Regions from separate parts of the Homo sapiens genome. Here region 2 is linked to region 1. A link means that fine-mapping ties the variant in region 1 to the expression of a gene that starts in the linked region. Tissue or cell type: lymphoblastoid cells. Region 1 holds a variant in brackets; the other region holds the start of a gene. All regions are shown on one strand. Distances are from middle to middle. Region 1 overlaps LINC03124 (long intergenic non-protein coding RNA 3124). Region 2 holds the start of LINC03124 (long intergenic non-protein coding RNA 3124).

Evidence for each region. PIP is the estimated chance that this variant, and not a neighbour inherited with it, causes the effect.
Region 2: it holds the start of LINC03124, and the variant in region 1 is the best candidate, but not a certain one, in a credible set for the expression of LINC03124 in lymphoblastoid cells (GTEx, PIP 0.58).

What each region holds. Positions count from the first base shown.
Region 1 is chr2:131,730,174-131,735,556 of GRCh38, reverse strand. All of the region lies in intron 6 of LINC03124 (long intergenic non-protein coding RNA 3124), which reads right to left. It also overlaps the pseudogene NBEAP2. Among named protein-coding and RNA genes, the nearest start is that of LINC03124, 50 kb to the right of the region's middle. The variant TTAAGG/G (reference allele first, on the strand shown) is at 2,571.
Region 2 is chr2:131,679,319-131,684,701 of GRCh38, reverse strand. It overlaps LINC03124 (long intergenic non-protein coding RNA 3124), which reads right to left and starts at 2,203. Exons shown (of 10, transcript NR_167889.1): 1 at 1,714-2,203. RefSeq lists a silencer at 2,231-2,280 and an enhancer at 2,651-2,770.

The sequences.
Region 1 (5,383 bases):
TGAGTCAAGAAGACCACTGGGATTTCTTCCACTCTATAATAAAAAGACTCTGGAGAGAAGATCTCCTCTGGAGAGAAGATAAAAAGCAGAATTTCATCTGTGTATTCTAATTCTGAAAACAACATTCCATTAAATATTAATTGGTTGTGGCACAACCATGAGTTTCTATGGCAGGGAAAAGCAACTTTTTCTACAAAGGGACAGACAGAAAGTATTTTAAACTTTGCTTGCCACACCTGGTTGCTGTCCCATTCTTCTTTGATTTTGTTTGTATCTCAAGAAAAAAACAAACAAACAAAAAACCTTTAAAAATTAAAAGCCAAGAGTCTTTGCCCCCAGCTTACACGAAACCAGAAACAGGGGGAGGGTCAGATTTGGTTCATAGGGTGTAGTCTGCCAAGCCCCGATCTAGGGGACAACCTATGGACCATACACACAGTGCTAGTTAAAAGAATACAAGACAGGATAAGCAAATCCCTGCCCTTTGGGAGATTAAAGCCTATAGACATGCAAACAAAACTGAAAAATGAATTGTATTTAAGAGGTAAGTTCTTATAAAACCAGGTAAGCGTGAAGGGTTGTATATTATTGAGCTTGCAGGTACTTTCAGCATTAAAACAAACCTTTTACTTTGGCTCTGACAGGCCAGAATGTAGACAATGGAAAGCCCAAAGTAGAGAAACCGTAAGGACACTTGAGGTTTTAATTCGAGTTTTTCACTATCTAGAATCCAACTGTGTCACTTCTTCCACTGCTAACATACTGGTAGAAACTAATATAATCTCTTTGTTTTATTGCAATAAGCCATTTAAGTGATTTTCCTGCTTCTGTAATTTCCCTTCAAAATATTGTCAATACTGCAGGCAGACTGATGCTTTTAAAATATAAGCACACATCACTTGTCTGCTGAAAACCTTCCAAGGATTTTTAAGCTGAGTAAGATGCAAAAGCCCAGGCCTTATGTTTGCTTATGAAGGCCAAAATGATTTCTGCCTAACCTTATCTCTTAATATTATTCTGCTTCTACCTACCTCTGCTCCAGACAAATTGCCTTTTCCTTGAACTTTCCTATTCTGCCTCAAAGCCTTTACACTCACTGTTCCCACTGGATAGAAGAAGTTCCCCACATACCTTGCTTGTTCACCTCTTCCTACTAAAATCATCTCTGGACCATCCGGCTCCCCCCTTCCCTACAACTACACTTTCTGTATCCCCAATTTATTTTCTCCATAGCATTTATCACTATGTAATTAATAATAGTGACTATATGTTACACTTCTGTTTAGGGTCTTCTTTCTATATCTAAATAAGGGGTAAACCACATTTTTTAGTGCTTGATGCTGGAATAAATAGAATACAGGATTCGCGGTTTTTTATCTAAAAAACTTAAAACTTTGGCCAAATGTTCCTGTTTTTGCATCCCTAATCATGTCTTTTAGCAATTTTCTTATATTAAATTTAACAGTGAAAGATTTGTTTAATAAAAAGAATAAACTTCCAAAGTTTTAAGTTTCTACCAAACTATTTTATTATTCAATTCATTTTGTAATGATAGATCATACTCTCAAACAAATTAAAACACAGAGAGAAAAATAAAGACTTACGTCATTTGTGTTAACATGCCAAGCCATATCACCATAAGATACCAGTTGTCCATTAACATAACACTGAATTTCACTGTTTCTCCATCGATTGTAAATGTGGACAATGCTGATCATGTACCACTTAAATAAAAAAATTAAATATATCAATATGTAATGTTTGGTTATTATGGTCTAAAATGCAATTATAATATTCATAAAACCCTACAATAATATGCTGACAGGACTATTAATGATCATCTAATACCACTTCCTCAAGTTCCCCCTCCCATCCCTCATTTCACAGATGGTAGAAGTGGCACATAAAGAATATTCATGGAGAAGACAAGAACTACAGCCCCTTGACCTCCAGAGTAATATTCTTTCCACTATACCAAGATTCAAAATTGTGGAAATACAATTCATTTGTGTTCATTCATTTAAAATTTACATTGTGCCAGGCACTGCAGATACCCAAGGCTAACCAGTTCTCCTAGAAGTTATGAGCTATAAAAGAAATATATATGACACAATTAAACAAATGTAGAATTATAAATCATGGTGATTACAGTGAAGAGAAAAAGAACAGTATAAACTGAAAAAGAATAAAGTAGGATTCTACTTTGGATTACATGGTCAGGAAAAGATCTGTCAAAGAAACAACATCTTAGCATTTATAATATGATTTAGGTAGTTTCAATCTCACAATTAAGATTTAGTAAATCCAGTGATAATTATATATTTAATAACTTAATAATGTGTGTTTATTAAGAATCAATAAATGAGTTCATATTAAGTGCCCATTTTATAGTTACTGCTATCAAATAGCATTTTAAGTATCTATTTTAATATGGATGGTTTGATTTCTGAAACAACCTTTAGTCTCTTGAGAGTTAATATCCTAAAATAGAGAATATAGAAATATTTTTTTCTAAAGTATAGAAAAATACAAATGATTTATAAACATTTGAACAAGTATGCTTTCTGAAG[TTAAGG/G]GGGGAAAATTAACTGGTTTCTCCCTCCTACCAAAATATAAAACACAAACTTTGTTCTACAGATTACTTCAATGCACTATTCAATTATTTCATATATATTTTGAGAAATAAAAAGTTATAATAATCCTTAATCACTAAAATATTAGTCATTTCAAGGTATCTAAAATACTTTGAGCAAAATTCAATTTTTTTCATTTCAATTTAGAAAATAAAAATAGGCAGGGCACGGTGGCTCATGCCTGTAATCCCAGCACTTTGGGAGGCCAAGGTGCGCAGATCAACTGACGTCAGAAGTTTGAGACCAGCCTGGCCAACATGGTGAAATCCCGTCTCTACTAAAAATACAAAAATTAGCCAGGCGTGGTGGCATCTGCCTGTAATCCCAGCTACTCGGGAGGCTGAGGCACAAGAATCCCTTGAACCTGGGAGGCAGAGGTTGCAGTGAGCCAAGATTGCACCACTGCACTCCAGCCTGGGCAACAGAGCAAGACTCTGTCTCAAAAAAAAAAAAAAACAAAAAACAAAAAACAAAAAAAAACAGAAAGAAAAAGAAAAAGAAAAAAAATAGTGTGTTAAAGAACTCAAAAAAGTCAGTAATACAAAACAACAGTGTAAAGGTCAAGACATTTAACTGTCTAAAATGCACATCCTTTTTAAGGTTTTTCATTCCAGGAAATCATTAATTTATTGCAAACTAAGTCTTTCACTTGATTCGAAACTGACATATATGTTAGCCCTGATTAAAATTAGAAGAGAAAATCTTTAAAGTAGTCATTTAACCATTGTTTCTAAATATTACAAAATTATCAAGAAGAAACCATAAAAAAGAGCTTCAAATAAATTTAAGGAAAATCTTACAGAATTTTACATGTATAAGAATTAGTTTGCACATATTACCTTCACTGAGTTTGAAACTATCCAACAAGAATGCTATCTACATAACACAGAAGACACAATCTTTATATTCTGGAATAAAATGTGTAATAACTTTACATTTCTAAAGAGAAGAGACACAAATAAATACCTATATATAGGCAAAGATTTCCTGCCCAAAGACAATTTTAAGATAAATACTAGATATATTATTATACTTATTGGTGTACTTACGATAAAAAAAGTACTCATTCAAATAATACTTACTGAGTTCTTACTACTTCAGATAACTTAATGTACTGGGCAGGATAAATTTTACTTCCTAAAGACATGAATTGGGTTCCCAAATTACTAGCTCTATGGCTTTTGGCAAATTACTTAGCATCTCCGAATCTATTTTCATCTCCCTGAAAAAGGGGAATAATAATGCCTACTTTGTGGATTCCTTGTGAATATTATAAACAGATAATACATGAAAACTACGAAGAAAAGTTCCCAATGTATTCAGCACCCATAAATAACACACCATTAACTAAACTACTATTATGATTTTATCTACTATGTCCTCATGATGAGGTTCATTTATGCTAAAATTGATTATTATTTACCTTTCAGAGTATTTCATTCATTCAAAAAATGTACTAAGAGCCTACTTTATGCCAAGTACCCTGTCCCAACCTTGGATCATGGATATATAAAGACAGACAACATATACACACTCAAGGAAGTTTCACTAGAGAAACAGTTATGAGAACAATAGAGAATATCTAAAATACAGATTTGAGAGTAATAAAAGTAATTACTATAAGTAACAGGGAAAGAAAGACAAATAGAGAAGAAAGACTATCATAGAAGTATTCACTAAAAGAATAAAATGAACCATAAGACTATGCTTGAAGGATGAAAAGGAATTGTTCAGTAGACAGGGGTAAAAAAACATTCCAGGTGGAATCTTAATATGATACAGCACAGATGCTTGACAAAACTTTCTTCAGTGTGTAGGTTTAGCAGGAAAAAAAAAAAAAAAAAAAAAAAAAAAAACAGGCGAAGACCAGATTGTAAACAGACCTTTAGGAAACTGGCCTTTGTTTTTTTGCATAACGTGGTATAACTAAATAATTTTGAGCAGGAAAGTTAAACGATCAGCTTCATAGTTAAGGAAAATAGCTGGCAGCAATTTGGAGGTGAGATAGGTAGGCAAGTGTGGACAAAGATAAAACTGAAAAACCACTGCAAAGGTTTGGGTAAGACACCATAAGCTGCTGAACTAAGAAAAAGGCATTAGTAATTTTAAAATGAGGATGGGAATTAACTAACAGAAATGATAGGAAGTGTTAACATATAACAGGGGAGTCTAAGATGGATTCCAATTTTCACTTAGATGGGTAAGGGTACCATTAACTTAAGATCATTAATACAGAAAAATTAATCAGATTTGGAGTTTATCAAGGTTTGCTTTTGGTTGTAACAATAATATATGATAAAATTAAATGAATGCACTGATGAATTAATGAACTGATCTCAGTTAAGACCATAGTACTTATTTATAAGAAAAGTAACTTTTCTCTTTCCTTGATACATCAAACTGTACTCTACAGATAACAGACACAAGTGAGTTTTTCAATGGTTAAAAAAAAGCCTAACTTTTGACCTGATATACATTGACTAAAGAAAATAAAAATAAACTTGGAAACTACCTGTGCATAGTGATATTATGTATATATAGTGAAGTCTGCATTTAGTTTGAGACTCAAAAAGAAATTTATAAAAGAAGGACACAACCAGAAATAAGAAAAAAATAAAGTTCCATATTAAGAATCCACAAGATATATATTACAAATTGAAGATATGGAAATAAATTGAAGATAAAAAAGTACAGATGATATCAATAGTAGCTAATATGTCTAGAGCACATATTACCATTAGATAACATGC
Region 2 (5,383 bases), 51 kb after region 1:
ACATTATGTTAAATGTAAGGAGCTAGGCCTAGAAAAACACTGCATGATACCACTCATGTGAAATCTTAAGATGTTTATCTTAATGAAGTAAAAAGCACAATATTGGTTACCAGAGTTTGGGAGATAGAGGGGGAATGGGGAAGGATTGATTATGGAAACAAAGTTATCTTAACATTAAAGGAACAAATCTGAGGTTCTCCTCCTCAGCCTGGTGACTGGAGTTAACAATATCATATTTTTCTAGAGTAAGAAGGGAGAATTTTGAATGTTCTCCCCACAAAAAAAAAAAAAACCTGGATGAGCAAATAGAGATCCTAAGTACCCTGATTTGATCATTACCCAATCTGTATGTATGAAAATGTACCCCTAATTATGGACCTTTATGTTGTGAAAAAAAGTTAACAGAAATAAATACGTATTGCTAAAAATCACAGGGAACCACAAAAGCAATGAATATCTAAAGGAATCCTGAGAAATACAAAGTGAAGACCCACAATCCTTAATATCAAATTACACTGCCAAGTTGTAGTTATACAGCTGATATATGATACTTGCATAAACTATGGACAAAAACAGGGAGGACAAAAACATGATCAACACAAATATGGACACAATCAACTGACTTTGATAAAGAACACTGCAATGTGGAAGGCAGAGAATGAATACCTTTGACAAAAATGATATCCAGATGCAGAAGCGAGAAATAGGACCTTATTTTACACGATGTATGAAAATGAACACCCACTCCCCCAAATTGAAGGCAAAACAAAAGACCATAAACTACAAAATGTTTTTAACTAAAACACAGGATGAGCATATATTTTGGGTCACTTGAATCTCTGCTCACCTTTGCAAAGAGGAAAATAAACACCCTGGAAGAAAAACCTCATTGACAATTAAATGCTTTGTCACTGACATATTATTTTCTTATATGGGTGACGAAAATTACATGCATGAAACGCAAAAATAAATATCATGTTGACTACATCAACATGAAAAGTTTCTGCACATCAAAGAAAACTACTTTCCAATTAAAAAAGCATCCTATAGATTAGGCAAAAATTTCAGGCAATCTTGTAATTCACGAGGAGTTGTCATCTAATATGTACACAAAAAACACTACAAAGTAGCAAAAGCATCCAATCTAATATTTTGCAAAGAACCTGAACAGACAATTCTGCACAGCCATAAAATCGAACAACAAATAAGAGATAAGGTCCTCAAAATCAACTATTCATTAGAAAACTGTAATTCAAAACCACACACAGATAATCTCACACTTATCGAATATTCCTTGATTTTTTTAAAAAAATAGGAGGGGCTGGGAACGGTGTCTCATGCCTGTAATCTCTGCACTTTGCGAGGCTGAGGCAGGTGGGTCACCTGAGGTCAGGAGTTTGAGACCAGCCTGACCAATATCGTGAAACCCCATCTCTACTAAAAATACAAAAATGAGCTGGGCATGGTGGCGGCGCCTGTAGTCCCAGCTACTCTGGAGGCTGAGACAGGAGACTTGCTTAAAACCAGGCAGCGGTTGCAGTCGGCCGAGATGGCGCCACTGCACTCCAGCCTGTAAGACAGAGCAAGACTCCGTCTCAAAACAAAAACAAAAACAAAACAAACCCCAAACCAAAAATAGTAGGAATGCGGGTGTGGTTTTGGAGAAAGGGAAACTCATACACTGTAGGTGGAAATGAAAATTAGGATACACACCATGGAAAACAGCTAAATAGCTGGAGACTCCTCAAAGAACTGAAAATACAGATGCCCCCTGCTCTAGCGAGGTCTCTTTTTAAAGGTGCTGAGGCATCAAAAATAATCCTAGACTCCAGCTCAGAGGCCCCTGGGGCTCCGAGGGACCCAGGTCCCGCGTTTTACCGCCAGCTGTGGGCCAGGGCGCTCCTATACGCTGGACGCGGGTCGGACATTGGCATAGCCTTCCCGGCCGGGGTGCGGACGCTGCAGTAGCCAGGACCGCACAACCGCCCCCAAGCGGAGGACTCGGGCCCAGATGCCCACGAAGAAGTGCGGGCACGAAAACAGGGAGAGGCAGGGAAGGAGCAGGGAGGGTTCCCGGTGGGGTCCACGCCCCCGCCACTGACCGCGGAGACCTGTCTCCTACTCCACCATCACATGGAACCCACCACCGCTCAGAAGCTCGCTCTGACCACGCTGCTGCTGCTGCAGGGGCGTCGCAGGAACTGCAGTCTCAGCTCCGTAGGGACACGCACGCTAGCAGCATCCCTAGTGCCAGGTTGAAGCTCCACCCCCTCTTAAAGGGACCGCGGCTCGGACTTGCCAGAAGCCGCTTAGGGTTGCGGCACAGGCTGAGCCTCTGCCCAGCCCAGGGGACGACGAAAGGCCCCTGGTCTCTCATCCTCCCCAGCTTTCGGGCCCTAGAAGTCGCAGGAGCGCTCCCTGTGACCGCCTCCCGGAGATCGGCTCCCTTTGCCTAGGGAGCGCCCAGGACCTGCCCCTGCCCTCCTCTGGACCTCAGCTTCACCATCCGCAAAGGAAGCAGCCTCGCTAGAGCTCTGGGGGTCCCTCAAGCTTGGCGTCTCAGGATCCAGGGTGGGCTCCCCTGCCCCTCTGCAGAGGGGGCCCAGAGAACCACAGAAAGCTGGGGGCTGGAGGGACAGTTCGGAGGGCAGCAGGGCCTCCCCGGCCTCACTGTCCGCATCTGTCCTGTGGGAGCTCGCGGGCCTCGCTATGGCCCAGGCACCCACAGCCTCACCAGGGCTGCCTGGGTCACCGGGCTCTCCAGGAGGCAGGCAGGGGCCCTGGGGTCCAGCGCTGCCCCCATCTCAACTCTTTCCTTCATCAGGGCCCACGAGGGGCCCTGTGGACTGGACCCAGGCCCGCCCATTCCCAGGGAGAGGCTATTAATTATTTCCTCAATTTCAGAGCCTGTTATTGGTCTATTCAGAGATTCAGCTTCTTCCTGGTTTAGTCTTGGGAGGGTGTATGTGTCCAGGAATTTATCCATTTCCTTCTAGATTTTCTAGTGTACTTGTGTAGAGGTGTTTGTAGTATTCTCTGATGGTAGCTTGTATTTCTGTGGGATCAGTGGTGATATCCCCTTTATCATTTTTTATTGCGTCTATTTGATTCTTCTCTCTTTTCTTCTTTATGAGTCTTGCTAGCGGTCTATCAATTTTGTTGATCTTTTCAAAAAACCAGCTCCTGGATTCATTGATTTTTTTGAAGGGTTTTTTGTGTCTCTATTTCCTTCAGTTCTGCTCTGATCTTACTTATTTCTTGCCTTCTGCTAGCTTTTGAATGTGTTTGCTGTTGCTTCTCTAGTTCTTTTCATTATGATGTTAGGGTGTCAATTTTAGATCTTTCCTGCTTTCTCTTGTGGGCATTTAGTGCTATAAATTTCCCTCTACACACTGCTTTAAATGTGTCTCAGAGATTCTGGTATGTTGTGTCTTTGTTCTCATTGGTTTCTAAGAACATCTTTATTTCTGCCTTCATTTTGTTATATACCCAGTAGTCATTCAGGAGCAGGTTGTTCAGTTTCCATGTAGTTGAGTGGTTTTGAGTGAGTTTCTTAATCCTGAGTTCTAGTTTGATTGCACTGTGGTCTGAGAGACAGTTTGTTATAATTTCTGTTCTTTTACATTTGCTGAGGAGTGCTTTACTTCCAACTGTGTGGTCAATTTTGGAATAAGTGCTGTGCGGTGCTAAGAAGAATGTAGATTCTGTTGATTTGGGGTGGAGAGTTCTGTAGATGTCTATTAGGTCTGCTTGGTGCAGAGCTGAGTTCAATTCCTGGATATCCTTGTTAACTTTCTGTCTCGTTGATCTGTCTAATGTTGACATTAGGGTGTTAAAGTCTCCCGTTATTATTGTGTGGGAGTCTATATTTTGGTTGCAGATGAGTTTATAGTCAAAGTAAAAAACACACGAAGGGCATTCACATTTCCAGGAACAGAAGCATCCTGTCTGGTTTTTCAGAGGTGAAGGGAGCAGTCTGAAGGGGCTGTGGCACAGGTGTGTCTATAATCAAAGCTCACAGCCGAGGCCCTGGGGGAGGTTCAGGTATGCCCCAGGGGGTGCGCCTCATCCAGCACTTCACTGCCAGGGGCCTCATCTTTATTAAATTCTGGGCCTTTTCCTGGGCAATAGTTACACAAGGTGCGTTCAATGAACCCTATGTCCTGTGGCTGCCACCCATTGCAGGGTCACAAAGGTAATGATCACCACCCCCTCCACCTTCTGCTGAGGGTCCGGGTGACCCCCTGGTGGTGTAACCCAGGCCCTCACCCCTAAGGGGTCCTGAGTCTTGCTCACCACGGAGTCCTTGGTCTAGGGCTCCCACACTTGTCCACGTACCATCAAATGCTGTGTATTGAGAGGCGCTTGTGTAGAGCCCCTCCTGCCCCAGGCAGCATAACCCTGCTTCTGCTGAAACCACGGTCCAGGTGGTACACATTTTTCTGCCCGCAGGTCCCATGGAGGAGCAGCCTGAGGACAAAGCAGCACCCAGAGCTTGTTTTTTCAGAGAATTTGGCCTTGTCCTGTCTAGAAGCCCCACAGCTGTGGAAACCAGGACCTCCTGCTTTTCAGAGCCTAGATGTGCAGGATATAGATGCACCTCAGAGGTCCTGGGTGTGAGGTGGAAGGTTGGGGGACACTGGGCTTCCTACTGCTGTGCTCCCATTGCCGCATCTTCTACCTGGTGGGACAAGGCAGCTAGCAAGGGTGACAGATTCACCCAGACACTGTGTCCTCCCACATCCTGACCTGGCACCTGAGCCAAACTGCTGGGTCTGAAGCTCCCAGGAGCATGTGTGTGCTGTGACCAGTGGACCTATGGCATGCGCCCTCTTCCTCCCTCTATGGCATGGTATCAATTCCTCTGATGGTGTCATGTGAGGTCTCGTCCTGATGGGTAGAACTTTCTATAAACCATCCCATGGCCCTGGGGAAAGGCAAGCTCATCCCTTCAGGTTTAGCTGTTTCTGTTAAATGCAACCCTGTTCTTCCCAGGGCATCAGGGCCCGGTGCAGTTGTCCCAGCCTGACAGGAAGTCCCCTTGATGGTTGTGTGGAGGGTGCAGGCTGGGCCTAGCTCATGACCCTGGCAAAGGGCAGGTGAGCCCTGGGGCTGACCACCTGCACTTTCTGTTTGGTGGTGGGAGATGTGGGGCAATATTTCTTGCCTTCCCTTTAGAGAGCATCTCCCAGCCTGCCCAGACCACTAGACCCCTAAAAATGTGACTTGTAGGCAGGTCCTGCCTGGCTCTCTGTGGTGCTTTTCTCTCCCCTCCAAGCATCTGTGACTCCCAGGCCTCCAGCCCTGCTGGCTTCCCCCATCTGAGCTCCTGATGCAGGGGGAGGACTGTACTGTGGCAGGCAGCATGCCGGTTTACACAGTT